2 separate regions of the Homo sapiens genome follow, and region 2 is linked to region 1. Evidence: fine-mapped expression QTL. A gene starts in region 1. The other region holds a variant in brackets. All regions are shown on one strand. Distances are between the middles of the regions. Region 1 holds the start of AKAP7 (A-kinase anchoring protein 7). Region 2 overlaps LOC102723445 (a long non-coding RNA gene).

Region 1 (13,173 bases):
CCATTCATGCCACGAACATCCAATCCTAAGTATATTAATGTATGCTGCTTGTTTCCCCCTTTTCTCGCTATGTGTTTTAAGTTGATTTAATAAACTGTTGATGTGAACAGTTTAATTTGGTCTTGAAGTCTTTCATTTCCATGATCTCTGTGATAGCTTGTCTGGCAGTGGACTTGGAGGCTATGTGGCATTAGGATAATTTTCTACATGACATGATTTTAGAAAAATGTTCTGTCTGCCATGAAGGTGTCCTCTCTCCAATTGGCATTGTGTTATTAAATAAGTAGTCACTTTAATAAATAAGTTATATTTCTGGACAAATTTGAGGCTTGAGATCATTTATAATAATTTATCTTGGTAAACACATTTATGGCTTATTTTTGGTTGCTCAGATTATTTACATGTGACAATACTGTAATTGAATATGCTGGCTGTCTTTTCTTTCTTGCTTACTTTTTTCTTTTTCCTTTTATTGAAAATAGGCAGGGTACCAAGAATTACTAATTACAATATTCCTTCATTTCATGGGTAATGCTTGAGGAATGAATTAGCGATGCAAATGTTGAGTCGATATCCACAAATGTAACAAGTTTATGATGCTAGAAGTAAATGTCCACAGGTATTATTAGATTTATGAGCAGGCAAAAACAACAGCCAAAAGGCCTTCAAACCTCCAAAATCTCCATCCTTGGCTTCCATTAGAGTTGACTCTTTAAGATTAGGTTCAATCTCTAGAAAGTTCATTAAATAACTAACTCAATAAACATTTATTTAGAAACTCCTGCATACTAGACTTTGGATGGAGACTATAAAATCCCTGCCCTCATGGAGAAGCAGGGGAAAGAAGCAGCATACATTAATATACTTAGAATTAAATGCTCGTGGCGTGAATGGGCCACACTACCTGAATCCTAGGGAACTCCATATTCATGCGTCTTGTCTCCCTCTGCTGCTCCATTAGCCTTCCCTGCTCATGGTGTGGTTACAAGGACCAGAACTGAGGTTTGAACAAAGAGAAATCGGAGTAATTTAATGGCTAAGTGGCTGCCTGCATATCAGGTGTACAGAGTGTTTTCCTGCCATTATTTTTGCCAAAATAATTCACTGGGACTTAGTACATGAGCATAGTTTAGTTTGTGAGATTGACTGATGAAAAGTATGACCTGAGAAAAAGAGACAGGGCAGGTAGATTTGTGGGGAAAATAGACCTGGAAGTTCTTTTGTTTCATTTTGCTTTGTTTTTTTTTTGTTTTTTTGAGACAGAGTCTGGCTCTGTCTCCCAGGCTGGAGTGCAGTGGCGCGATCTCGGCTCACTGTAACCTCTGCCTCCTGGATGCAAGCGATTTTCCTGCCTTAGCCTCCTGAGTAGCTGGGATTACAGGCATATGCTACCATGACCGGTTAATTTTTTTGTATTTTTAGTAGAGATGTTGGCCAGGCTGGTCTCTAACTCCTGACCTCAAGTCATCTGCCCACCTTGGCCTCCCAAAGTGCTGGGATTACATGCCTAAGCCACTGCATCTGGTCCCAGACCTTGAAGTCCTTGACCATAGGTTGTATGTCATGATGGCACTTGGACATTTGATTTCTTTAGAGAAAAAGTCCCTATCTCATAAGATACAACCAAATAAGTTCAGAAGTAAAGAAGTAGAAGCCACTATAAACAATCCATAGAGGAAAGGAAACATTTAAATGAAAGGGAATGAAAGGAAAACATTTAAATCATTAGAGCAAAGAAATAAAACCACTAAGGAAAATTAATACATAAGACTACATACAAATTTTCAAATTCTGCACATTATAAACTTCTATATACGAATTAAAATACAAATAACAAACTAGGGGAAATGTTTTCAGTATATATGACAAAGTATTTAAAGTAATCGATTTTCATTCTACCAGAAAGACATGCACACATATATATTCATTGCAGCACTATTCACAATAGCAAAGACATAGAATCACCCTAAATGCCCATCAACAGTAGACTGCATAAAGAAAATATAGTACCTATACACCATGGAATACTATGCAACCATAATAAAGAATGAAATCATGTCCTTTGCAGGAATATGGATGGAGCTGGAGGCCATTATCCTTAGCAAACTAACACAGGAACAGAAAACCAAATACTGCATGTTCTCACTTGTAAGTGGGAGCTAAATAATGAGAACAAGTGGACACAAAGAAGGAAACAACAGACACTGGGGACTATTTGAGTGTGGAGGGTGGACGCAGGGAGAGGATCGGAAAAAGTAACTAGCCTCCTATCAAGGTGGCAAAATTATATGTACACCAAGCTCCCGTGACATGCGTTTACCTATATAAAAACCTGCACATGTACCCCTGAACCTAAAATAAAAGTTAAAAATATAATAAAATAATGGATTTTATAAAGTAGTAGAAAAAGGTAAACGATTTAGAAGAAAAATAAGCAGAAGCTTTTTATAAAGAGAGGTGTGCAAGTGGTTACGAAACACATGAAATAATATGCAGATTTATTAATAATAAAAGAAATAAGAGGTAAAATAACAGCCATTTGAACATTGTAAATAGAAAATGAGGGTTAGTGGGATGGATAATAAACTTTCATGAACTGCTTATAAGCATATAGATTTGCATGAAGTTTTTGGTGGATAATTTGGCAACACATTTCAAAAGGCTTGTAATAATTTAGAATCTATTACCTATCACACCTCCTTCTGGGAATTTATTTTAAATAAATAATTTAAGGCTGGGTGTGGTGGCTCACATCTGTAAATCCCAGAGCTTTGGGAGGCCAAGGCAGGCGGATCCCCTGAGGTCAGAAGTTTGAGATCAGCCTGGCTAACATGGCGAAACCCCATCTCTACTAAGAATACAAAATTAGCCAGGCGTGGTGGCGTGTGCCTGTAATCCCAGCTACTCAGGAAGCTGAGGCAGGAGACTCATTTGAACCCAGGAGATGGAGGTTGCAGTGAGCTGAGATCATGCCATTGCACTCCAACCTGGGCAAAAAGAGTGAAACTCCATCTCAAAAAAAAAAAAAAAAGGAAATAATTAAAAAATTTAAACTAATTACAGAAAAATGTACTTATCATAGAATTATTTTTAACACAGAAAAACTGAGATGAATTTAAATGAGGTTGAACAATGACATTGGCAATTGGTCAAATACATTATGATATATTTATATAAGGATATAATATGCATGATTGAGCTGGGTGCGGTGGCTCACGCCTGTAATCCCAGCACTTTGGGAGGCCGAGGTGGGTGGATCACTTGAGGTCAGGAGTTCGGGACCAGCCTAGCCAACATGGTGAAATTTGGTCTCTACTAAAAATACAAAAATTAGCCAGGTGTGGTGTCAGGTGACTGTAGTCCCAGCTACCAGGGAGGCTGAGGCAGGAGAATTGCTTGAACCCGAGAGGCGGAAGTTGCAGTGAGCCAAGATCATGCCACTGCACTCTAGCCTGGGTGACAGAGCAAGACTCTGTCAAAAAAAAAAAAAAATGCATGATTGAAAGAATAATATAAAATATAGAAGAATGCTTAATGACATGAGAAATTAGTCACAATATCTTGTAAAAGACAAAAGTAGCTTATGATGCCATAATGTGACATGATTTCATTTTTATAAAATATATGCTGCAGGAGTATGTGTTTATATGTGTATGTATATCTATGTCTAAAAAGATACAATTATAGATAATTTTACATTTTATTCCATAAGTTTTTCTGAATTTAAAAATATCATAAAACAACATGTTACTTACATAAAATTTTAGATTTGTAGTTAGAAATATTTAAAATAATTTAAAATGTTGCATTCTGTTATTAAATATTATCAGGCCCTTCAACTGTGTCTGACTACTGAAATAAGTCTATTATTAAATAGGTGTAGTGCTTTCTTAAAAATATTATACTCAAACATTAATTGAAAAGCTTACATGTTAAACACATATTCTTCTTCCAGCAAAATGAAATGTCACCCCGAGTTACCTTGGGTCACCAAGGGTCCCAGTTAGCTTTGTACTGATATTTGGCCGTGTCTTGTAGAACTGCATGATGTCATCCTTTTTTGTAACCATTTGCAACTTTAGTTTCTATGGGGACCAAGGAACATCCTAGGGCAAGAATTAAAACAGAGTCAATTGTTTTGGTAGAAATTCACTAGGTCAGGACCGTATCACAGAAGAGAAATGAGGGACCTGAAGAGAGAACTCACCATAAAGAAAGGAGTCGGGCAGGGTGAATGAGTCAATTTAGTAGTAGTTCCTGAAAGTCAGAAATGGGTCATGTTTCAGGAACAGTGTGGCAATCTGAACCTGAACACTTCCCATCCAATTATTTCAGCAATCATTGTACCTTGCCCTCTGGGGGAAATGGGGCAGTGTCTGTAAAGAAACTTGCTGTATCTCAAGGAATTCTGTAATTCTTATAGGTCCCAAAAATCTTCTGTGATGCAGCTCAACCTGCTCTACTCTTAGCAGAGTGTAATGTGTAGGGAGAAGTTGTTCTTTTCTCTTTTTTTGAGATGGAGTTTCACTCTTGTTGCCCAGGCACAATCTTGGCTCACTGCACCTCTGCAACCTCTGCCTCCTGAGTTCGAGCGATTCTCTGCTCCAGCCTCCTGAGTAGCTGGAATTACAGGCATGTGCCGCCACGCCTGGCTAATTTTGTATTGTTAGTAGAGACAGGGTTTTGCCATGTTGGTCAGGCTGGTATCAAACTCCTGACCTCAGGTTGTCCACCCGCTTCGGCCTTCCAAAGTGCTGGGATTACAAGCGTGAGCCACTGTGCCCAGCTGACCTTGTTCTTTTCATTTGCAAGAGATGTCACCATGAAGACTGGGAGAATCCACTGTGGCCAGGTGAATTAGCAGGCAGCTGATGTGCGCGAGGGCAGAGGACTTTCCGGAGTCAAGATTGGACAAATGGAACTCAGTGAAGCAAGGGCTGGGAACAGGTGGTAGCTTAGAATGATTCATTAGATTAGTTTTGCCAGACACCACTTGGAAACCCAAAAGTATTTTGGAGGAATTTCACAAAGGACTGGCGTCTTGGCATGAGTTGGTAGGTTCATTTAGCTATTAAGATTTAGATGTTAATGTTATACTTGCAGTTGGCTTTGCAGGGAAAAAAAGAAAAAAATAGAAATTAAAAAATTTTTAAAAAAGAAAAAACATTTAGATGTTAAAGTTAATGTTGGCTAATTTTTAGCCTTAAGCTGGAGAAGCTTGTTCAGGCGTGAGCAGGTATATGCAAACCTATCCTGAAGGGTTGTGGGAGCTGAGAGGCTGAAGAAAGTGACTGACAAATCCAGTTTTTCAGAAAGAAATATTTAACAGGGTCTTATGAACCAAAGTGACTCTCCAGAGGCCATGAGATTACACATCCTCGCATCCACCCTCCAGAAAGTATTCTAAGACTTGGGCAGTTGGTCCCATCTCAAACTTATGACCACTGGGGAGGTCAGATAAGCATCTTTATGAGGGGTTGTCTATGCTAGATGCTTGGTTTAAAAACCTTGCTGCAGAACACCTTTGCATGCAGGAGCCAGACATTGCTCTTCATGGAGGTTTTGCTTCAAGATGGCGCCACTCTTGCCACGCAACAGGCTGTTTGCCAACAAAACTGTAGGACATTAAGATTACCCGTGATATTGTTTCTCTTTCTTTCTTTTTTTTTTTTTTTTTGAAATTTATCTGGGAGTGCTGCTTTATTTTTTGACAAATCTGAGTACTTAATGGATCTGGATGCTTATAAAAGTTTTATTCATTCATTGAATGTCTATTCATTGAGAAATCTCTATGCATTTGGGAATACGAAGACTTTAAAACATAGTCTTTGCCTTCTAGTGGCGTAAAGTCTAATGTATGAAACAGAAAAATGTGGCAAAAGGGATGGTCAGAGCGGGCACAAGGAGTATTAAAGCCCTCAGGTGGAGTACCTAACCCAAGTAGAAGGGTGGGGTCAGGGACTGTTCCCCAAAGGAGGTCACTGACAGTTCCTACTGATCTTGACCATAGCTGCGGTCCCCTGTGACAGCAGTAGGACAGTTCAATGTACTGATGTGGGAAACAAACTCTATTTAATAACTGCTAAATGGTGCTGAGAATGAGTTAAGGTTAGAGATAATCGGCAAACTGACATAGAGGCTTAAAAATCTTAAAAATCCCTATAGGATGTTTGGTTATTGACAGAACCAGTTAATATTGAAAATCAATTAAATAGATAAATTCGGCCAGGCGCGGTGGGTCACAACTGTAATCCCAGCACTTTGGGAGGCCGAGGCGGGCGGATCATGAGGTCAGGAGATCGAGACCATCTTGGCTAACATAGTGAAACCCCGTCTCTACTAAAAAATACAAAAAATTAGCCGGGCGTGGTGGCGGGCGCCTGTGGTCCCATCTACTCGGGAAGTAGAGCAGGGAGAATGGCGGGAACCCGGGAGGCGGAGCTTGCAGTGAGCCGAGATTGCGCCACCGCACTCCAGCCTGGGCGACAGAGCGAGATTCCGTCTCAGAAAAAAAAAAAAAAGATGAATTCATAGGTATTAATTTGTTTTATGAAAGCAAAAAAGAACCAGGTTGCCCAATGCTTTAACGAAGGTTCACCTGCAGCACGACTCATGAGGGCATGGATCCTCTGGTCCACACTTCCCTCTCCCTCCGTATGTTCTGCCCATTCCTCCCTGACTATTAGTACACAGCCCTTTTCTCCCCAGAGGACAATATACACTGGCACAGTGCCAAAACAACTGGATTGGAAGGGTTTAGTTTTAAGCTACCACACTGTTCCTGGACCACAACACCCCACCGAGATTTTGAAAAGCCTGAGCCAATTATTTTCTAGAATGTCACACATTCTGGATTGGTCTGATTCTTTCCTCATCATGTTATTTTACTTGTACCTCTATCTCCTGTATTTCTGGAAATCTGAAAATTATATTTAAAGCCTTAGCAGCTTCAGGTGAAATATTTATGGCAAGACTACCTTGCAGTGATGATATAGCTTTCACAGGAGCTTTCACAGATTGTCCACCATTAATGATGCTGAGTTTAATCACGATAAAGGTGGTGACAACCAGGTTTATTTACATGGAGTAAAAATATGTTCTCTCCTGAGCAATTACCAAGTATTTTGTGGGGGGTAGTATTTTGGCAACTTATAAATATTTCGGTCCACATTAACCTTTCATGTAATGGTTTTAGAATATATTGATGATCTTTGCATCAATCAGTTATCAGTTGTGGTGGCAAAATGGTAATTTTCCAATTATTTTATGTCTCCTATATTTATTATTGAAAATTCTTCTGTGCAAAGCAGCTTTCCCATACTACTACTTCTAAAAAGTCATGGTAAATCTTTCTTTCCCTTTAATTTTTAGAGTAAGGAGACTAAGGAATTGCGTACTTGTCACCTTTAATGGTGGCCTACTAGTTTTTCTTCCTCATTTTTTGAGTATTATTATGGGTATATAGATTTTGTATTCAGTATGTTACAATAATTACAGGTGTTATCCTTTTATGATGTCAGATTATCTCCCATTTGCTCAAAGAAAGCTGTTTCTCGCTAGTCCTTGTGTTTTTGATAGTCCCCATTTGTCTTTGCTTTTTGGCACAAGAAGATGTCCAAGGTTCACCTTGTACTTCCCTTTCTCCCTGTCATTTCTAAAAGAAGCTCTGTGAAAAATTCCTTTTTCAGACTTGGGTAATTAAAATGTTCCTCCACATGGTAGGTGTTGATAAGACTCTGTATTCATAATACTGGTGGTGAAAAATATGTGGCATTTGGGCTGTTACCTCTGCTTAGGTAAGAGAATGAAACTTCCATATATCTCTTGGTACACACCACAGGGGAAGAAAAATCTTTCTCCTGCCCATTTAGTTCACTAGGTTGGACTGTGTAAATTAAATTGACAAAAGACAGATTAAGACGAGAAAAGGATTATTACACATGCACATAGATGCTTCACAGGAAAGAACTAAAAGCCCGAAGAGGCAGTTAGAACTGGGGGCTTCTATACCATTTTAACGATGATAAAGTGTGGAGAGGCTAGACAAAGGAAAAGGGGGCTTAGCCTTTTTGCAGTATGGGAAGGTTACTAGAAAATGTATGGGTTTGTTATGCAGGTAAGACTCATTCTCCTCTTTCTGGTATGGGTGAGTGGTAAAGCTTTGTTGTTTGTTTGTTTGTTTGAGACAGGATCTGGCTCTGTTGTCCACACTGGAGTGCAATGGCATCATCTCAGCTCACTGCAACCTCCACCTCCTGGGCTCCAGCGATCCTCCCACCTCAGCCTCTGGAGTAGCTGGGATTACAGGCATGGGTCACCACGTCTGGTTAATTTTTGTATTTTTGGTAGAGACAGGGTTTTGCTATGTTGCCCAGGCTGGTTTCAAACTCCTGGACTCAAGTGATCCACTCGCCTTGACCTCCCAAAGTGTTGGGGTTACAAGCGTGAGCCACTGGGCCCGGCCTGGTAAAGCTTTAAAAATAAAAATTTATGTCACCTTTACGAAGGGAAATTTATGTCCTGCTTTTAGGCAGAAAGGGGGAGGTCAAAGTTGTTCCTGAGTCTTTAGTTTCTGAACTGTTTTAAGCTCAAGAATAATCCTTATGCTGAAGTGGCATATTTGGGGTGGCATATTCTCATCCTCTTCACTATGAATGTGGACCACATTTTTGCAGCTTTTATTTCCGCAGTTACTTATGTTTCTTTCTCTGCTATTATATGATCAGCTCCATAAGTAAAAGACCTGTCTTACCTGCACATCCTCAGCACAGAGCTCAAGCATTAAATAAATATTAGGGGAACTGGTTGTACTTTCCTACCAGCCCATAAATGGGCATCAGAAACTCAACGTGTTAGAATTATTTGAAAATCAGAGTAACTAGTTTGCCGACTTCTAGTGTGCAGCCTTTACGCCAGCTGTTGTGGCTGTGTAGGGGTCTTCTTTTCTTCCATCCCTATTCTACGATGCATTCAACATAAGCGAAGTGTTATTATTCACGAAAGGCGCTAATTTGTGGACGGATGCACCTAATGTTCTTAACCCCTGGTTTCTTCGCACTAAAACCAATCCCAATAGCATTCCGTTTCAAGTGAAAGGTTTTTATTTTTTTAAACTAAGTAAATTTCTTTTTCTCCCAATTTACTCACTGCAGTACCTTATACTACAAGAACCAGCAACTGGTTTCCTCTTAATGTCTAAACATAACATCATTGTTAAAAATTAGAGACTTTGTCACAATTTGCAGTTTTTAAAAGTAAGGTAAATAAAGTATCTCATTATACAGAAGTACAAGGTCTCGTTCTTGTACATTTCGCTCTTCCCAAATATTCTGCAATCAGAACCCTGATTGCAAAACTAAGCACATGGATTCTCAAAAGACACCAGGCCAGAGAATTCTTTCATCCTAGTCCCAATCTCGCCCTTGAAAGCGTGGGAGGGGCAAGGCTGCGCCACGGGAAATAAATGAGGGCTGCCAAAGGCCGTCGGAGGCCGCGGGGCTCGGCAGGCAGGCGAAGACCCAGCGTCGCATTGCAGAGTCGAGACGACCTGGGCTGCCGTGACGCCGCAGTCGCCGGCCCTAGTTTCCCCCGCCCTGCCCGAGCGCGTCCGCGCCTCTCGCCCGAATCCGGGTACCACCGGCGACTCGGGTCGGCCCCTTCTGGCTTGTTCCGGCGTCCGGCCTGGCATGCGGGTGCTGCGGCTGCTGCGGCTGCCGCCGCCGCTGCTGCCGCTGCCGCGGGGGCTGCGGCTTGGGAAGCTCCGCGCTTCCGCAGGCCTGGCCTCCGCCGCCCGGGCCCCCGCAGCCTGTCGCTGGACCCCGCGCCGGCCCAGCGCACCGCCCTCAGGCCCCGAGCCCCGCCCTGGCCTCCGCCTCGGCCTCGCCTCCAGCCCCGGGACGCGGCCCGCCACCGCCGCTGCCGCCAGCCCAGACGCGCCGCCCGCATGCGCCGCGACCATGGAGCGCCCCGAAGCGGGTGAGACCGGGCTGTCCAGCGGGCCGGGGCGGGGGCGACAGGAGCCGCGGGGGCCTGGGCCTGCTCTGCGCTCGAACTTTGGGAGGGCCTGACCCGCGCCGGCCCTTCTCCGAGTCTCCCTCCTTCCCAAAAGGACTCAGGGTAGCACCGAGAAGCCCGGTGCAACCGGGGTGTACATCAGTGCTGCCTGTAGCGAAGCGTTTTAATGCACGCATTGTGGGTCCGACAGGAGGCGGGGGTATGAGCCCATCCCCGAGTTTCACTTTTCTTTCTCCCTTTCTCATCCTGTGACCCTTTGCACAAAGTTCATGCCAGTACACATTCCTTCCGACGGTGTTGATGTGGGTAAATGTAAACAAAACCTAGTAAAATTTCGATTTTATCTTATATCACAAATATTAAGCACCCGAACCACCATACTGTCTCATTTAGGATTTTCTGCCAGGTTTGGACATGACCGCTTTTAAAACTGGCGCCAAGTCTACACTAGCGCCCGGAATGAATTTCCAGTTTAGGTCAGCGTTTGTTGTGAACTGAACTTTGTGATAGAGCGAGTTAGGGGTGGACTTTCGGTAAAAGGGTCCGCAAACCAATTAGAGAAAAGGTGCTCCTCTGCAAGAGTTTCATAGGATAAACTCATAGAAGAGTATAAAAAGCATAAAAACGTTAAAGTGTACTATATAAATAGCAGTTAATCGTGTGAATATGTTGACAATTGTTAAGTGAATGATGACAGTGAGTTTTTGCATTTAGGAAATGCATGGGAATGGAAATTGTTAAGGAGAAAAGAGCCATACTCCAGTTCCTTGTTTAAGTGCCGTGGCTTTGCAATTCAGGATCCTGTTAGCATATCTGTATATTTTCCTTACTCATAAAGTTTAAGATGTTTGTGGAGGTTACTTCCTCCTTTCATCCATTTTCGGACACTATTAACTTGTTTTGTCCATTTCTCCCTAATAATTTGGATTTTACTTTTGTTCCCTTTTTATGAGGAGGAAAGGAAAGCCTGGAGGTCAAGTAACTTGTTGATTTCTACGCAGCTGTCAACATTTACTAACGTGTAAGATGCTAATACTATTTTTAGTAGCTAAGCCAGGACTAGAATGGATGCCCTTAGCCCTTTCCAGTTGTTCTTAGGAATAAACTTATTTATGTATGTACTTATGTATGTATGTATATATGTATATATGTATTTAGAGACAGGGTCTTCCTCTGTTGGCTCAGGTGGAAGTGCACTGGCGCGATCATGGCTCACTGCAGCCTAGATCGGCTGGGATCATGCCAACCTCCTGTTTCAGCCTCCCCAAGTAGCGGGGACTACAGGTCTGTGCCAACATGCCTGACTAATTTTTGTATTTTTTTTTTTGTAGAGACGGGGTCTTGCCATGTCACCAAGGCTTGAACTCCTGGGCTCAAGCAGTCCTTCTCTGAGTGCTGGGATTACACGTGTGAGCCAACTTGCTCAGCTGGGATAAATTTACTATTTACCTAGTAGAGTGATGAGAGACTTACTTCACAAAATTGAGTAGTCATTTATTATCCAGTTAGGAAACCTGCATTTTGTGTGACAGTGGGAGAACTCTCCATACCCTTTTCTCTCTCTTTTTTTTTTTTTTAGAGGCAAGAGTCTCGCTCTGTCGCCCAGGCTGGAGTGCAGTGGCACAATCTCGGCTCACTGCAACCTCCGCCTCCCAGCTTCAAGCGATTCCCCTGCCTCAGCCTCCCGAGTAGCTGGGACTATAGGTGTGTGCCACCACGCCCGGCTAATTTTTTGTATTTTTAGTAGAGATGGGGTTTCACCGTGTTAGTGAGGATGGTCTCTATCTCCTGACTTCGTGATCTACCTGCCTCGGCCTCCCAAAGTGCTGGGATTACAGGTGTGAGCCACCTCACCCGGCCCACCCTGTTGGCCTGTTTTTGATGAAGGCATTTGCTTCACCTGTATTTGAATATTTGCATATATTTAAAGGTATGGTTTTATAATATACTTAAAATGTATGTATTGTTTTTCTTAGGTAATATTCAATTTTGAAACGTTTGAATAGCAGAAATGAGAAACATGAATATATTCAATATAGTTGTCAGCATTTACAAGCAGTTTATACTGTTTAGCCTTTGGCCACATAATTGTAAATCATAGAGCATATGCAATTTTATATCTCCTTTCTAAAAACTTGGCATTTGTTGTTAGCTTTTTTCTGTCATTGCATTCTTCATAGTCATTGTTCGTAGTTGTCATTGTCGCGAGCATGCTTCGTTTAACTGTTTCCCTATTTTTTTCATTGTTTCTATTTCATTGTACCCAGTCACCATCCATGTTCCCCCCACCCGTTCCACCACCCTCCCCAGCCTCTGGTAACCATTCTTCTATTCTCTATCTCCATGAGTTCAAATGTTTTAATTTTAGTTCCCACAAATAAGTGAGAACATAGAAAGTTTGTTTTTCTATGCCTGGCTTATTTCACTTAACATAAGGATCTCCAGTTCCATCCATGTTGCAAATGACAGGATCTTATTCTTTTGTATGGCTGAATAGTACTCCATTGTATATATGTACCATATTTCCTTTTTCCATTGGATAACCTTAGTTATCCAACACTTAAATTGCTTCCAAATCTTGGCTATTGTACCATTTCCTTGTTATTAGGCATTTAAGTTTTGTTCCACTTTTCCTTTTTTGTTTAAATAAAGCTGTGGTGAATCTTTGAGCATGGATGATAGATAACCAGAGAGCAGTAAGAAGAACATCGGAAGAATATTTCTGTGGCTTCTGGTCTATTGCCAGATTGCTTTCTGAAAGGATTGCCTCCGTTTACATTGCTATAGTCAGTGTATAATAAGGTGGCAGTGTGTGGTGCCAGAAAGGGCATAATGGTAATAGAGTGACTGGATTCCAGTTCCAGCCCCAAGACCCACTAGTTTTACCCTTGAGCAAGTACTTATTTAATCAGTTAGTTTGTAAAATGAGCATCATAATAGTACCTCTCCATAGTGTGGTTGTGTGGATTAAATGAGTTCCTCCCAGTGCTTCCAGCTGTGCCTGGCTTCAAGCATGCACTTAAATGTTAGCTGTTGTTAGTAGTAGTAACAGACATATTAATAGTTTACCAGCTTCACCTCATCTTTATGTTATTAATGCATTTGGAAGCATAACTTTTATTTGGATTTATACAAAAGATAGAATTTTAACTATGGTTA
Region 2 (17,340 bases), 17 kb before region 1:
AATGTTTATCAGATAAATTAATGAGTGAATAACTCTGGCAAATCTGGTAGTGTGTGACCTCAGCAAGAAGCCAAGGAAAAGCATACTTGTTTCTGCCTCACATTTGCACAGAGCTTGATGACACATACTTCAAAAAGCATATTCTTATCTGAGATTACAAAGTCTTTCACAATGACTGTATAGGAGATAAAGTGGAGGGAAAAACACCCTCTTCCTAGAGGGAGTATCATAGAATAACAGAACTGGAAGGGAAACATTTCATGCAGCTGCTGACTTTAAGCAGGACTACGCTGGAATCATTCCCAAAAGATAAGTTTGCTCTTTAATAGTAATAATTAGGCCAGGTGCAGTGGCTCATGCCTGTAATCCCAGCACTTTGGGAGGCTGAGGTGGGTGGATCATCTGAGGTCAGGGGTTCAAGACTAGCCTGGCCAACATGGTAAAGCCCCCGTTCTACTAAAAATACAAAAATTAGCTGGGCGTGGTGGTGTGCACCTGTAGTCCCAGCTACTTGGGAGGCTGAGGCAGGAGAATAGCTTGAACCCCAGGAGGTGGAGGTTGCAGTGAGCCGAGATCATGACACTGCACTCCAGCCTGGGTGACAGAGTGAGACTCCATCTCAAAAAACAAAACAAAACAAAACAAACAAACAAAAACTTAATAATTATCCAGAGACACAACTTCCTGGGCTTAGATATTTCAGAATATCACAACTAAACTCTTAAAAATTTCTGAAGGCTGGACACCGTGGCTCACACCTATAATCCCAGCACTTTGGGAGGCTGAGGCAGGTAGATTGCCTGAGCTCAGGAGTTCAAAACCAGCCTGGGCAACATGGCGTAACCTCGTCTCTACAAAAAATGCAAACATTTGCTGGGCTTGGTGATGTGTGCCTGCAGTCCCAGCTACTTGGGAGGCTGAGGCAGGAGAATCGCTAGAACCCATGAGGTGTAGGCTGCAGTGAGTCATGTTTGCACCACTGCAGTCCAGCCTGGGTGACAGTGTGTATTAGTTTGTTTTCATGCTGCTGATAAAGACATACCTGAAACTGGGAACAGAAAGAGGTCTAATTGGACTTACAGTTCCACATGACTGGGGAGGCCTCAGAATCACGGTGAGAGGTGAAAGGCACTTCTTACATTGGCAACAAGAGAAAAATGAGGAAGAAGCAAAAGCAGAAACCCCTGATAAGCCCATCAGATCTCATGAGACTTATTCACTATCACAAGAATAGCACAGGAAAAATCAGCCCCCATGATTCAATTACCTCCCACTAAGTCCCTCCTACAACGTGTCGGAATTCTGGGAGATACAACTCGAATTGAGATTTCAGTGGGGACACAGCCAAACCATATCAGAGCGAGACCCCATCTCAAAAGAAAGAAAGAAAGAAAGAAAGAAAGAAAAAAGAAAGAAAGAAAGAAAGAAAGAAAGAAAGAAAGAAAGAAAAAAGTTCTTCTTGCTCTTCAGCTTAATTCTTCATGCAGTAGTATAAGAATACTTTTAAAACCATTCATTCAATAACTTTATACACAGCATTTGCCTTAAAGTTTGATAGTTATGTCTCCTTTCTCCTAGTCATCTTATTCTCAGTTTGAGGGGTAGTGTTTGACATATTTTTGTATGTTTAAAAGTTACCACCATCACTACTATCCCCAGTACTCACTAGAATGGGAATTAATACATTGTGATAGTAAGAATATTAAACTTTGTTTAATCCATTTAGGCTGCTATAACTAAATACAATAAACTGACCTATTTATAACTGAGTACATAACTGGGTACTGTAAATAACAGTTGGTTTTTTTTTTTCTCACAGTCTAGAGGTAGGGAGTCCAAGATCAAGGTGCTGGCAGATTCAGTGGGTGTCTGGTGAGAGCCTGCTTTCTCATAGATGGCACCTAATCACCTCTCAAAGACACCAACTCTTAATACTATCACATTGGACATCAGGTTTCAACACATGAATTTTTGGGAGACACAAACATTCAGACCATATTAGACTTGGGGTCTGATGTGGTTTGGCTCTGTGTCCCCACTCAAATCTCATCTCGCATGGTAATCCCTACATGTGGAGGGAGGTGTACCTGGTGGGAGGTGTTTGGATCACGGGGGCAGTTTCCCCCATGCTGTTCTCAAGATAGTGAAGGAGTTATCACGAGATCTGATGGTTTTAAAGGTGACAGTTTTTTCTGCACTCACTCTCCTGCTGCCTTCTGAAGAAGGTGACTGCTTCCCCTTCTGCCATGATCATAAGTTTCCTGAGGCTTCTCCAGCCATGGGGAACTGTGAGTCAATGAAAATTCTTTCTTCATAAATTACCCAGTCTCAGATATTATTTTTATAGCAGTGTGAGAACGGACTAATACAGAGTCTAAAAGTCAAGATATGAGTTCTGGCTTGAGATGGTGCCTGCCATCTAATGGATGCTTGGTGAGTATTAGTAACTTTTGGTCTTGTTTTCTGTGAACCTGGATGATTTACTGACTATTTCTGAACTTCATCTATGACATGTGAGAAGAAAATACTTTCTGAGTTGATATGGATATCAAATGATGTTTCTGAAAATGCTCACTAACCTAGGAAGCATTATATAATTTCAAATTATTGTGACAAAATAAGAATTCAAAAATACAAGAAAAGTGTCTGCAAATGGCAATATAAATTAAAAGGTCAGTCAATTATCTTTGGCCCCTGTCCTCTCCCTGCCCACCACTAGATTTAAGAGAGAGAAGATCCTTACTCTTGACTCAATAAACACAGAGCTTGGAGTCTATGCTGGAGGCCAGCCTGTTTCATTCAGGTCAATATGTAACTTCAGCAGGAACCAGGGACCCCCAGTTAATTCCAAATGAGGATTCTGACTGAGCTGGAAAGTGCACTGGAGCTTTTTAAAACAGGTGCACAGAAATTTTATTTTTCTAAAAATGTGCTTTATTAGAAGTGATGATTTATTATGTCAATCATATATTACAAATTACTTTGCCCAATGATATAAGCAAAACACATAGATTTTTCTAAACAGGCTTATTTGATCAGAGGTTAAGAGAACAGCCCAGCTCTGGCTGTTTTATACTAGAATATAAAGACCTAGGGGGAAAACCCACTTAAATAGGTATTAATTATTGCAAATCTCTCAAAAAAAAAAGCACTTGGTTTTAACCATTATTAATACATTTTAGCCCATGTTTTTCATAAAGGGGCCATGGTTTTGTTTTAGATTTAAATTTAAGACTTTGTTTTATTTCTGTTTATCTTGAGTTTGAGGGCAATATTTTGGCTGGTCTGTAAAGGTTTTTGTCCCAACTACTCAATATGCTATGGTAGGGTGAAAGCAGCCACGAACAATATGTAAATGAATGGGCATGGCTGTGTTCCAAAGAAACTTTACTTACAAAACAAATGTCCAGTCTGCAGACTCTAGTCTTCTGACTCCCATTCTATACCAATAAGTAAAGATCACAGGAGCCCCTTACATTTACACAGAAGTGTAAGCAGTACACAATAGTCCTGTCTCAGAGCTATGCCAAGTCTCTAGCTCTCAGTCTTAATCTAGCCCTTAGGAACTTTGATAGTCCTGTCATCCTGTAGGGCTTCACACTGGCCCACTACATTAGTGACATAATGATGACTGGACCAAGTGAGAGGAATTCACATTCTTATATATATATATATTTCACACATATATATTTATATGTGTGATAGAAGGTGGAAAATAATCTCCCAACAAACTTCAGGGCCTGCCAACTTGGTAAACTGTCTAGGAATCTAATGGTTCGAGACATGTCAAGATGTTATCTCAGGGAAAAACTAAATTTCTGCAACTTGCATCCCCTATCAATAAGAACAACCCCAAACTCATGCTATATACAGTCTCAAAAAATTACCTGACTACCCTTGAGGGAAATAAGTCATATATGATTTGTTGGTACTCAGCACTATTTCTATTTCCTTTGATACTCACCCCTTCATGTCAGGGGCTGATGAATGAGAACTGTCTTTTCATAGTCCCTGTAAACCAAATACAGTTTAGATTCTGCCCATGAGGTGTACTTGTGCTTAAATTACAAGGCAGAAGACAGAATCCATTCCTCTTTCTTCAATTGTGTTGGTTGACATGTGGACTTAAGAAGATGTAACTATTTTTTTTGGGGGGGGGACAGGGTCTCACTCCATCACCCAGACTGGAGTGCAGTGGGACCACCATAGCTCACTGTGGACTCGACCTCCTAACCTCAAGCAATCGTACCACCTCAAGCCTCCCAAATTGCTGGGATTACAGATGTGAGCCATTGTACCCCGCCCGAAGTTGTGACTTTTTGCAGCAACTTCTATATTCCCTTGTGTCGTTCACCCCAGGACTTCAGGGCAATCATGACTATTGATTTCAGTCTCTTACATCCTCCTGACTTCTGCATGAAAGCAAGAAGTTTCAGATTCTTTGGACTGTGAATGTGAAAGCTGGTGGCAGCTCCTCCGACTTTCATTCCTTATGCCCTTGCAAAAATTTATAAGTACAGTACCTATACCTAATTCTCTGTAAATTAAAGCCTTTTATCTTTAAATATTTAAATTGACTTCCATTTTTCCGGCTGAGACTTGACTGCTTGCAAGAATGAGAAAATTCATTTTTGCATTTTTTATAATATTTAATATTTCTTGATGAAATGCAATAGGATAAATGGCTACATATTTTTAATACCATATTCTAATCATTTTATTTATCATAAAGCCCTTCATGACATCATTATATTTCTTATAATGGCACAGATCATTCCTGTTTGTGTCTAAACCTCAAGCAAACTAGTCCTCCTAAAGGATTAGTACACAGTATTAGCACTCACTACCATCTGGCTGTCTGTTACAAAGATATAAACAAGATATTAGTTGAGATAAACAATTCTTGTTGTTTTAATATCATACACAATTTGATTCTATGTCCTGGGGCCACTTGGGCATCATCTTTCGGTAAATAACCTCAGGAGTTTAGACAATAGTAAAATGTTGTAAAATAATTAGAAAGTGATATGTTTGCATATTTATTACATTTTTTAAATTAACAGCTTATGGAGATACAATTCATACACCACACAGATCATCCATTTAAAGTATACAGTTCAATAGTTTTTAGAATATTTATATAGAGTTTTGCAGCCATCACCACAATCTAATTTCAGAACATTTTCATCATTCCAAAGATAAAACCCCATAACCCTTAGCAGCCACACCCCTCTCCCAGCCCTAGGCAAACACCTATCTACTTTCTGTCCCTGTGGATTTGCTATACTGGACATTTCTAATTTCCCCACACCCTTGCCAGCATTTTTTATTGTCTGTCTTTTAAAATTATAGCCAACCTAGTGCCTGCCACTCGGTGTTCAAGTGATTCTCCTGCCTCAACCCCCTGAGTACCTGGGACTACAAGTGCATGTCATCATGCTGAGCTAATTTTTGTATTTTTAGTAGAGACGGGGTTTCACCATGCAGGCTGGTCTCGAACTTCTGATGTCAGGTTATCTGCCTGCCTCAGCCTCCCAAAATGTTGGGACTACAAGCATGAGCCACTGTACCCAAAATCCTTTATCTGTTTTTTAATCGGATTTTGTATTATTATTGAATTATAGGAGGTTTTTATATACATCCTGGATATACGTTTCTATCAGATATAAAAGGGGACTTCAAAAAGTTCGTGGAGCCGGGCACAGTGGCTCACGCCTGTAATCCCAGCACTTTCGGAGGCCGAGGCGGGCAGATCACAAGGTCAGGAGATCGAGACCATCTTGGCTAACATGGTGAAACTCCGTCTCTACTAAAAATACAAAAATTTGCCGGGCATGGTGGTGAGTGCCTGTAGTCCCAGCTACTCGGGAGGCTGAGGCAGAATGGTGTGAACCCGGGAGGTGGAGCTTGCAGTGAGCTGAGATCGCGCCACTGCACTCCAGCTTGGGTGACAAAGCAAGACTCCGTCTCAAAAAAAATAAAAATAAAAAGTTCGTGGAAAAATGGAATTAAAAGATAAAAATGATAAATATAAACATTATTTCTCAACATCAGCTCCATCAAAGTCAAGACACTTTTGGAAGCCAAAACACCAGCCACTTATTTAGTCCATCTCTAAATAATTGAGATTCCTGAGAATTTAACTATGTCAATGTAGTTTTTCTTACATTATTAACTGAAGAAAAATGGATGCCTTTTAAAGGCTTTTTTGTTTTGCTTTGTTTAGTTATAGAGACAGGGTCTCACGCTGTTACCCAGGCTGGAGTGCAGTGGTACAATCTTAGCTCTCTGTAATCTCAACCTCCTGGGCTCCAGTAATCCTCTTACCTCAGCCTCCAGAGTAGCTGGGACTATAGGTGTGTGCTACAACACCTAGCTAATTTTATTATTTTTTTTTTTTGAGACGGAGTCTCACTCTGTTGCTCAGGCTAGAGTGCAGTGGTGTGATCTGGGCTCACTGCAACCTCTGCCTCCCAGGTTCAAGGAATTCTCCTGCCTCAGCCTCCTGAGTAGCTGGGATTACAGGTCGCTGACACCACCCCCAGCTAAATTTTTTTTTGTATTTTTAGTAGAGACGGGGTTTCACCATGTTGGCCAGGCTGGTCTTGAACTCCTGACCTCAAGTGATCCGCCCATCTTGGCCTCCTAAAGTGCTGGGATTATAGGTGTAAGCCACTGAACTCAGACAAGTTTTATCTGTAAAATTTAGACTGGGTAAAAACAGCATAAAGACGTACAACTAATAAAAGCCAGTAGGAGATTGTCCGGGTGTGGTGGCTTACGCCTGTAATCCCAGCACTTTGGGAGGCTGAGACGGGTGGATCACTTGAGGTCAGGGGTTCGAGACCAGCCTGGACAATATGGTGAAACCCCATCTCTCCTAAAAACACAAAAAACAAAAAAAATAGCCAGGTGTGGTGGCAGGCACATGTAATCCCAGCTACTCAGGGGGCTGAGGCAGGAGAATCGCTTGAACCCAGGAGGCAGAGATTGCAGTGAGCCAAGATTGCGCACTGCACTCCAGCCTGGGTGACAGAGGGAGGCTCCGTCT[CA/C]AAAAAAAAAAAAAAAAAAAATTGTTTTTGTAGCAATGAGTTCTCACCATGTTGCCCAAGTTGGTCTCAAGCTCCTGGCCTCAAACAATGCTTCCACTCGGGCTTCCAAAGCACTTTGATTATAGGCATGAGCCACTGAGCCCTCAACTTTAATTTTTCAATCAGGAGCATGTAAGCTGAACCAATTGAGATGCCTATGGTATTGATATTGTTTCTGCTGTTATTTGTCAATCCTCTTCAGATAGGGCAAGAGCAAGATTAATTTTTTTCCTTGAAAATTGATGTGATGGTCTCCCACTGTAGGCTTTTTCTTTAAAATTGTCTCATCCCTTCTTAAACCAAGTTATCCATTTGTAAACTGCTGATTTCTTTGGGAAATTGTTCTCGTTAACTTTTTGTAAATCATTAATGATTTCACCATTCTCTCACCAAAATTTCACCATAAATTTGATGTTTATTCTTGCTTCAATTTTAGCAGAAGTCATATTGCTCTGATAGAAGCTCTTTTCAAACTGATGTCTTAGCCTTCTTAGTGTCCCAATGTAGATCCTCTTCAGATATTTTATAACAAGTTAGTATGAGTTTATTTTGGTGCAAAAACAACTTGAAATCCATGCATAATGTTTTCATAATATGCATTTTCCATGAACTTTTTGAAGGCCCTTGTATGATTTGCAAATATTTTCTCCCATTATATCGGCTGTACTTTCACTTTCTTGATAGTGTCCTTTGAAGCATGAAACTTTTAAATTTTGATTTATGTATTTATTTTAGTTTTAGTTATATTTTTTTGAGATGGAGTTTTGCTTTTGTTGCCTAGGCTGGAGTGCAATGGCGCAATCTCGGCTCACTGCAATCTCCACCTCCTGGGTTCAGGCGATTCTCCTGCTTCAGCCTCCTGAGTAGCTGGGATTACAGGCATGCGCCACCATACCGAGCTAATTTTTGTATTTTTAGTAGAGGTGGGGTTTCTCCATGTTGGTCAGGCTGGTCTCGAACTCCCGACCTGAAGTAATCTGCCCACCTCAGCCTCCCAAAGTGCTGGGATTATAGGCATGAGCCATTGCGCCCGGCCTATTTAATTTTTCTTTTGTGGTTTGCACTTTTGATGTCATGTCGTATTTAAAAAATCATTGCCTAATCCAAAGCAGAGAGATTAACTCCTATGTTTTCTTCTAAGAGTTTTATAGTTACCATTGTTTTAAATATAATTTATTTGATTATGTCTCCCTAATTTAATTTTTAATAATAGCTGGACTTAATAACCAGCACTCAAGATTCCTGAAAGTTTAAAAGTTGACTCTTGCAATCTGGTATAAGCCAGCTCTAGCACACCACTGAAGGTGTATTGTGCTGGGTGGGCCTGGAAGAAAGACAAACTAAACCTCTGACACTGGGACTGATAGGGACGAGGAAGAAGCTGCTAGTCACTCACCCATGAAGGTAGAGTTGCCCAGTGGAATCTAATCCTGATCTGAAAACTGATCTTCCTAAAAGAAACTAAAAAACTAATCTAAGGCTAATCCCATGTGGAATCTTAGGTGTGTTTCCAGAAACTGTAGTTAAGACACACCAGTTTGAATGGGATTCCTGAGGACTAACTCAGAAGACATGCTGAGGTATTGAGGTAGTGGTGGTGGCAGCATTAGATTAATACACTGTAGAACTCCCCAAGAATTTAGGTCACAGGGAACTAGATTCTAGCCTCAGAGAAAGAGCACTGGTAGGAAATTAATGTGGTACCATGCCCAAGTCATTAGATTGAGCTTAGAGCAAGGTCTTGTACTCTGTCACTGGAGAGATCACCAGTTTTTGCAGAGTATGAAAGCAAAGACACACGATACTAACTACTCTGGAATAGACCCACGTACTGTTGTGGAACACTGTAACTTCAAGGAGACACCAAGAATACCAGAAGGCAGATTCAGCAGGAATGGATTGAAGGATATCTAGTTCTGATGGAATAGCATTTGAGATACTCTGAATGGCCCCACTCCCAATACCTTCTCTCCTACTGGCCGCCTGAAAAAACCTCCAAGTACTGAATATACTATATAAATAATATGTTAAATGCTTTTATATAGCAGGCAAAACTGTAAGGAATCTATGGAAACAACAACAAAGAAAAAAAGAAAAGAAAAGACTCCTGAAAGGTAAATGATTTCTGAGGCACGTTTTCACCCTAAGGGTCAACCTAAGGGACCTTGAATTTACATTTTGAGAAATGGTATGCAGAGGATAACAGATCGGCCTATGGTGAGGAATCTAATAGGTGATCCCTGCATAGAGCTAAGTTTCTAATGGCAACACTCTCAGTATACAAGTGAGCAAGAAATATGTCTATCTAAAGAAGAAGACATTGAAAACTTGCCTCTCTCAACTTTTGCCCTGGGAGAAGAGGAAAAAAAATTCTCTGAGAATTCATAAACTCAACCAAGTGCTTATGTGGGTCTAAAGCCAGATTCAAGCTAGTGATGCATAGCGCTGCAAAATTTAGCAAATAAAAATAGAGCATCCGTAGTTAAACTTGAATTCAGATAAACAATGAATACTTTTTAGTATAAGTATGTCCCAAATATTGCACAAAAAATAATTTCTTGTTTATTTGAAATGTAAACATAACTGGATGCCCTGTATTCTATTTGGCAACCCTACCAATGTAGTATGAAACGCCAAGTAAGGAATTTAAGTTGTTCCAGGTTAATAGTGCCCCCTGGTGACACAAATAAAACGATATTCTTTTTGGAGGAATGCAACTTCAAACCAGGCTTCAAAGAATTTCCTCAGATAAAGATCGAATACAAGCTCACAATGAAAAAAAAAAAACACAAAACATATAAGAAATAAAGGTAATGTAAGTATGAACCAGAAAGAAAGCCAGAAAGGTTATTATAATAAAATATGCAAAGATTTCAGATATTAGAATGATCAAATATAGACTAGAAAATAATGTGGTTAGTATGTTTAAAGAAGTAAAAACCTGCAAACAGGAACAATAGACTAGAAAAAATTCAAGTAGATTTGAAAAAGAACCAAATGGATGGCCTAGGAATGAAAAATATAATACCTGAAGTTCAAAATTCAAAAGCTGGAGAAATAGCATATTAGACAAAGCTGAAGAAAGGATTAGTGAACTGGAGGAAACATTTAATGGGCTTGTTTAAAATTACGCTCAGAGAAACAAAGAGTTGGAAAATACAGTAGTCCCCCTTTATCTGAGGGGAATATGTTCTAAGACCCCCCAGTGGAAGCCTGAAACTGCAAATAGTACTAAATCTTACATATATAAGACTGTTTTTTCCTATACATATGTACCTATGATAAAGTTTAATTTATAAATTGGGCACAGTAAGAGATTAACACCAATAACTAAAAATAAAACAGAACAATTGTAACAATATACTATAATAAAAATTATGTGAATGTGGTCTTTCCCTCTCTTTCAAAATATCTTTTTTTTCTTGGTTTTTGAGACAGAATCTCACTCTGTTGCCCAGGCTGGAGTGCAGTGGCACAATCTGGGCTCACTGCAACTTCTGCCTCTAGGGTTCAAGTGATTCTCATGCCTCAGCCTCCCAAGTAGCTGGGATTATAGGCATATGCCACCACACCCAGCTAATTTTTGTGTTTTTGGTAGAGAAAAGATTTCACTATGTTGGCCAGGCTGGTCTTGAACTCCTTACCTCAAGTGATGCGCCTGCCTCAACCTCCCAAAGTGCTGGGATTACAGGTGTGAGCCATCACACCTCGCCTCTTTCAAAATATTAAGATATATTGTACTGTTCTGTGAGTAACTGAACATGGAAAGTGAAACCACAGAGAAGGGGGAACTATTGTATAGAGAGTCTAAAGGGAATTGAGGACAAAGTCAGACTTCGTAACATAATTAGAGTTCTGGAAGAAGGAAAGAAAAAGATTATGGGGAAATAGACAATAATAAAATAGCAAATGGGTGCTTTTTCTAAACTTTTGAGAGATACCAGTTTTCAGAATCAGGAAGCCCAATGTTTTCAAGCAGAATAAGTAAAATAAATTCATGCTTAGATTGCTAAAACTATAAAGCTCCAAAGATAAAGAGATGATTTTTAACAATTGTCAGAGAGAAGAGAGATTATAACAGCATATAATTCAGGGCAGTAGTCGAAGTTAAAATTTTTGAAGGTCCTTGTGTTATTTGGGGAGAAGGTAAAGACATTAACTTTAGATTTTTTTAAGTATGCCTGTTAATTATTTAGGATAACTCCTTTAAAACAATCAACATAGAGAATATCACTTCCAAATTAGAAGAGGAGAAAAAATGGAATGAAGGGGTTGCAGGGGGGACGCAATCAATCCAAAATAAGTCAAATACATTGGAGAGGGGTCAACAAACAAGAGCCCAGTAATTGTGGAGAGTACACCAGAGGCCAGGGTTGAGGGATATAAAGTGCTAAGCCCTCCAGACAGTGGAATGAAGCCAATGATGCGTTTCTTCCTTTTGTCCGATTACATCAAGGTCTTGGGGGCAAACACTTTGAGATTCAACCCTGGGATCTATGAAAGTCACATTTCCACAGAGAAAATGAGGCAAATATTGATTAAGAAAAAAGAGAAGGCTGGGAATGGTGGCTTACACCTGTAATCCCAGCACTTTGGGAGGCCGAGACGGGTGGATCACCTGAGATCAGGAGTTCGAGACCAGCCTGGCCAACATGGCAAAACTCTGTCTCTACTAAAACTATAAAAAATTAGCTAGGTGTGGTGCACACACTTGTAGTCCCAGCTACTCTGGAGGCCGAGACACGAGAATCCCTTGAACCCAGGAGGCAAAGGTTGCAGTGAGCCAAAATTGTGCCACTGCACTCCAGCCTGGGCAACAGAGCCAGACTGTGTCTCAAAAAAAAAAAAAAGAAAAAAGAAAAAAAAAAAGAAGTGTAGTTTCTTCAAGGCTTTGGTCAGGAAATTGCTAGAAAATCAATTAATTTTTTTAATTATCTGGAAATTTCCTGGATTTGCTACTTCACATTTTTAGCACAGATGAAATGAGGCCTCGGTGTGTGAACATGGATCAGTCAATTCATCATTTATTTTGGAAAAAAAATCAAATCTGTCCTATGTGCTAAGCAAAGTGTTAGACTCCCTTAAAGTGTTAACTATCTCGTAAGAGAATTATTTATAATGAAAGCTAAAATATTTTAATCACCCCAAAAGAGGTAAAAATAAAGCAGAGGAAGTTTTCAGAGTAGAAAGTATCCTTATTTGGTTGGAAAGATCAGATGAAGGGGATATATGAGATGGTCATAAAAGGAAAGACTGAAACTTTTCCTTCAGGTGATACAGAAGGCATTTTAGGTGAAGTGAGTATCATACACTACAATATAGTTGTTGGACATCGTTTTCAAAGATAGTTAGGGAACAAAAAATTATTAATTTGATCCATTTGAAAGATGTTAGAGAATAATTATCAATGAGAAAAAAAAAGTGTGTAGAAATGAATTGTGGCAGGCCTCAGATCCACAGCTGAAGAGCTCATACTTAATTTTACAGGAAACTGTAATAGTATGGGAGGCCTGCCTCTAAAGCTTTTCACAGATAGAAATCCGGCTTTCAAAGTGATACCCTTAACCACTTCGCCATGCTGCCCCTTGAACAAATGATGCCTATTTACAAGACACAGTGAGTTTTTGGGAATTTATTAGGCATTTGATAAATATTTGACCAATAGAAAAATGTCAGCACTGCTGATGATTTAGAAAACATCAAGTAAATAATAAACCCAGTGTAGTAAGGGCTTTGGGGAAGCAGATGCTTTTTATGCTACTTATTATTCTTAAAAAATACAATAAAATAAAATAAAGTAAAAAAATAAAAGTTTCAGGGCCCTGATGAGGTCTACTTGGTAAGTGGAGCGCCTGAGGAAGCCTGTAGCTTCAATCATGTATGGTAACCGGGTGGCTGAGCACCAATCTGGGTTGTGAGGAAATAGGGGAGAGGTATGCTGGGCCACATCCCAGCCTAACACGTGTGAGATTCCTTTTAGGAACTAACCTCATTAGCTACAAGGGTCATGCAGAGGCAGCAAAGCCTGGTGCGATGAGCTCAGCCTTCACTCATTCATGAACACCATCACTCTTTTATTCAAATCTGTATATGGCTTTTTTGCTTTTTTTTTTTTTGAGACAGAGTCTCACTCTGTCGCCAGGCTGGAGAGCAGTGGCGTGATCTCGGTTCACTACAACCTCCACCTCCTGGGTTCAACAATTCTCCTGCCTCAGCCTCCTGAGTAGCTGGGATTACAGGCATGTGCCACCATGCCAGGCAAATTTTTGTATTTTTAGTAGAGACGGGTTTTCACCATGTTGGCCAGGATGGTCTCGATCTCTGGACCTCATGATCCACCCACCTTGGCCTCCCAAAGTGCTGGGATTATAGGCATGAGCCACCGTGCCCAGCCAGCTTTTTTGTTTTAAAAGTTAAATCCATTCTAATTACCCAAGCAATGCATGAATTCATTATCCTTTTGAGAAACTAGGTTGTTATAAAGATACTGTCATTCAGCTACCAACCACTCCCCATTCCTGTCCCTTCCCCTCTTAATGGCTGTTATGTTTGTTATACTTCCATTTAGACTTTAATATTTTTACATACATATATGAACTCATTGGAAATAGTGTGTTTAATGCAAATGGTATATTGAATTGTTTAGCAATTTGTTTGCTTTGCTTAATGATGTTTTTGAGATCTGTGCATGTTAGTTAATGTAGATCAGTCCATCCTCTGTAATTGCTGTATAGATTGTCATCATATGACTACCATATTTTACCTACGCAAAAAAAAAACCAACAAAAATAAACAAACAAAAAACCCCCAAAACCCCATAAAATGGAACATTCCTCTTAATTTGATAAATTTACTTTTGGTATATGGATCAAGAAAATGATACAAATGAAAGAGAAAAAAATCCAAGGATATTTGTAAGTGGATTCTACTGGAAATGCTCAAGATTTGGGGACTGGTTAAACAAATGATTGCATATTAACACAATAAGGCATTATAATATAATACAAATTATTATATATATAAAATACCTATTTGAGAGAGATATTTGAAAGATATTAATTAAAAGTGGCATAGTATTATATATGGTTTATATATATATAAATTATGTCTATAAAATTTACTGTTACTCTGAAGTGATAAAAGAATGAAAAAAATCAGAGGACCTTGGGTAATTAATATTTTCTTTCTTTTTTTTTTTTTTGAAATAGAGTCTTACTCTGTCACTTGGGCTGGAGTGCCGTGGCTCAACCATAGTTCACTGCAGCCTCCACCTCCCTGGGCTCAGGAGATTCTCCCACCTCGGCCTCCTAAGTAGCTGGGACTACAGGTGCACACCACCACGCCTGGCTAATTTTTGCACTTTTTGTAGAGATGGGATTTGTCATGTTGCCCAGGCTGGTCTTGAACCCCTGGGCTCAAGGGATCCACTTGCCTTTGCCCCTCAAAGTGCTAGGATTACAGGCATGAGCCACCATGCCTGCCTTGTAGCTAATACTTTATAGTAAAGGAATTTTTGCAGTTTGGTTGGCTATAATTATTTTGTCTTTCACTATATTACTAGATCAATCAATAGACAATGAAGATATTTGCCGTTTGAAACCACACAATATTTAGACAAAGAGCTTTTAGTTGGACCATGTATTCAAATAGATGACCATCTGTAAGGAAATATTTTACTGTGTAAGGGAAAATAGACTCAAATTTCCTCCCACTCTGATTCTATTTCTCTCTAGTACTCTTAAAGTTTTACTACTTTTTCCACTTCTTGTATCTTCTAATTCTTACAATATTCAAAGAAAACCTCATAGTGTAATTGTCAATTATACTCTAATTGGAATGCAAATAAGATTAGCATTGCCAGTTAAGGCTTGTATGATGCCTGTTTTAAATATCAATTGCACAACTAAAAAACGAGGAATACTTATGCCAAATAAGCAATGAGATGACTAAGTTGAATAAGATGTAAAATCTGCTAGCCCAGATATTAATATCCTATTACTATAATCTATGTTAATATCTTCCTGAAAAAACAATTGTAACACACATTTTAGAATGAACAATGAGAAGTTTGAACATAAACTGCATCAATAATTTCCGGCACGTTAGGAAGATAATGAAACCAACAAATAGTAATATAGAGCCCTGATGACCCAGAAAGTGAAATTTGATATCGCTCTTAATATTTTCCTTTTAGTATTCAGAAAATCTTACCAGGGAATAACAACAACAAATCATCAATGAAGAATGGTCTATTGGAATGTATAATGATGGTTTATATGATGTATATGATACCAAAAATAGTCAGCAAAACACAGTTTCAAACTAAGAAATCTTGTGAAATAAACTATCAAAGAAGAAACTAATCCCTAGCACTAATCAAATTCAGGAAGCCTAATTAGAGCTGTTAAGCCTAATCTGCCAATCTGGCATTTGCTCAAAATGTGGTCAGGAACACTAACTACTTCAGTGTATAAAAATAGAGATTATCTCAAAATCCACAATATAAGACATCATTATCTTCTGAGTAAATAATACAAGCTAGAGTATACCTCGTAATAAGTAAATGATCTCTTTTATTTTAACTGAAGAAAAAGAATCAATGTTCTGGATGTAAATGTCCTCAACAGTGTTTATTTCTTATTCTTGGCCAGAAAAGAAGAAATGCATTAAGTATGTAATAATTCAGGCAGCTGACAAAATGTAAAAAAAAAAAATTCAGATTCTAATCGCAAAGATAGTGAAGGTCTTCCGTCTGCAGCCCTCTAATTTTCTAACTTTATATACCCTCTCTCGGTGACCTCATCCACATCCATAGTTTCAATGATCACTTGTACACCTATAACTTCCAAATTGCCAAGAGTCCTTCCTCAGTGTCTTCCTCTCCTCCCAGCAAATGACTTCACTTATTTCCATCAAGCAAATTGACATCTTTAGAAAGTAGTTCCCTTAATCACGACCCATCCAAATACTTACCAGGACCCATCTTTCCTTAACTTGCTTCCATCCTGTGTGAGATCACTGCCTTCATTTGAACAGACTCTATAGCTCTCACCCCCATTATTCAGTTTTGGTTTTTTTGGTTTTTTTTTTGACAGAATCTCACTTCATCACCCAGGCTGGTGTATAGTGGTGCGATCTCAGCTCACTACAACCTCTACTTCCTGGGTTCAAGCAATTCTCCTGCCTCAGCCTCTCAAGCAGCCAGGACTACAGGTGCGTGCCACCATGCCTGGTGGAGTTTTTAGTAGAGATGGGGTTTCACCATGTTGGTTAGGCTGGTCTCGAACTCCCGACTTTGAATGATCCACCCGCCTCGGCCTCCCAAAGTGCTGGGATTATAGGCATGAGCCACCGCGCCCAGCCAGTGTTTTTCCTTTTCTGTCTCTCTTTACTGGTTCCTTTTTAGGATTTAAATAGAATTTAGCTCAATGTCACTCCCACCTCTGAAGATCTAGTTAAAGGGACTCAAATTCTGATGGCATGTGAAAGTCTAGCCCCTCCCTAAGATTTCTGCCAATTCTTAGGGGTTTATAATCACAGGACTCTTTCAGCCTCTAGGCACAGGGGGTCCTCGTGTGCTCTGTGTTTCTCAGCCATCTCCTTGGTTTCCAGAACAAAATCATTCACAACTAAGAGTGGTGAACTTAATTATTGACTTTATTGAAGGTATGTGAGATCCAGGGAAGGATCCCACTCCTCAGCACACACTGTCCGCCATCCTGCTCACTCCGCTCTCACCCCTCTCTCCATTCTTCCACTCCTCATCCTCTTTGTTCTGGGCTTCTCTGGGAATACCCAATTCACTCTGCTTCTAATGTTCTGGCATCAGCCAACTCTTTCTCTTTCTCCACATTATCAATTGCTGAGTTTCACTTACTATTGTCTTGCAAACTCTTAACTCTATCACTTTTATTTCATTTCTAGGCCAACACTGTTGTTTAGATTTCTGTCCCTTATACTTGGATTATTGTAGTATGGCAGTGAACTAACTGGGCTTGGGGCTTTGATTCTCTGTCCCCTCCAATAAATCCTGCACAGACCTGAAAGATGTGTCTTTCCAGAGTTATCCTTCATCATGTCAGTTCCAAGGTCAGAGTTCTTGAACAAATTCCAATTCTGATGTAATAAAGTCCCATTTGCCTAGCCTGGCATTTAAGACTTTCCATAATCTGGTCCCAACCAAATTTTCCAGCCTTGTCTCCCAGTCCTCCGTCACTCAAACCAGCCAAACTGGTAGACCCACTCTCTT

The links. PIP is the estimated chance that this variant, and not a neighbour inherited with it, causes the effect.
Region 2: its variant is fine-mapped to the expression of AKAP7 in skin (TwinsUK, PIP 0.90).

Annotation. Positions count from the first base shown.
Region 1 is chr6:131,125,808-131,138,980 of GRCh38, forward strand. AKAP7 (A-kinase anchoring protein 7) reads left to right here and starts at 9,660. Exons shown (of 8, transcript NM_016377.4): 1 at 9,660-9,975. The coding sequence starts at 9,957. It overlaps LOC102723445 (a long non-coding RNA gene), which reads right to left and starts at 4,554. Exons shown (of 4, transcript XR_428022.3): 1 at 4,208-4,554; 2 at 3,930-4,106. RefSeq lists enhancers at 9,291-9,791, 10,228-10,287 and silencers at 9,618-9,707, 9,858-9,967.
Region 2 is chr6:131,107,200-131,124,539 of GRCh38, forward strand. The region is part of intron 2 of LOC102723445 (a long non-coding RNA gene); the gene reads right to left. Among named protein-coding and RNA genes, the nearest start is that of AKAP7, 20 kb to the right of the region's middle. The variant CA/C (reference allele first, on the strand shown) is at 7,052.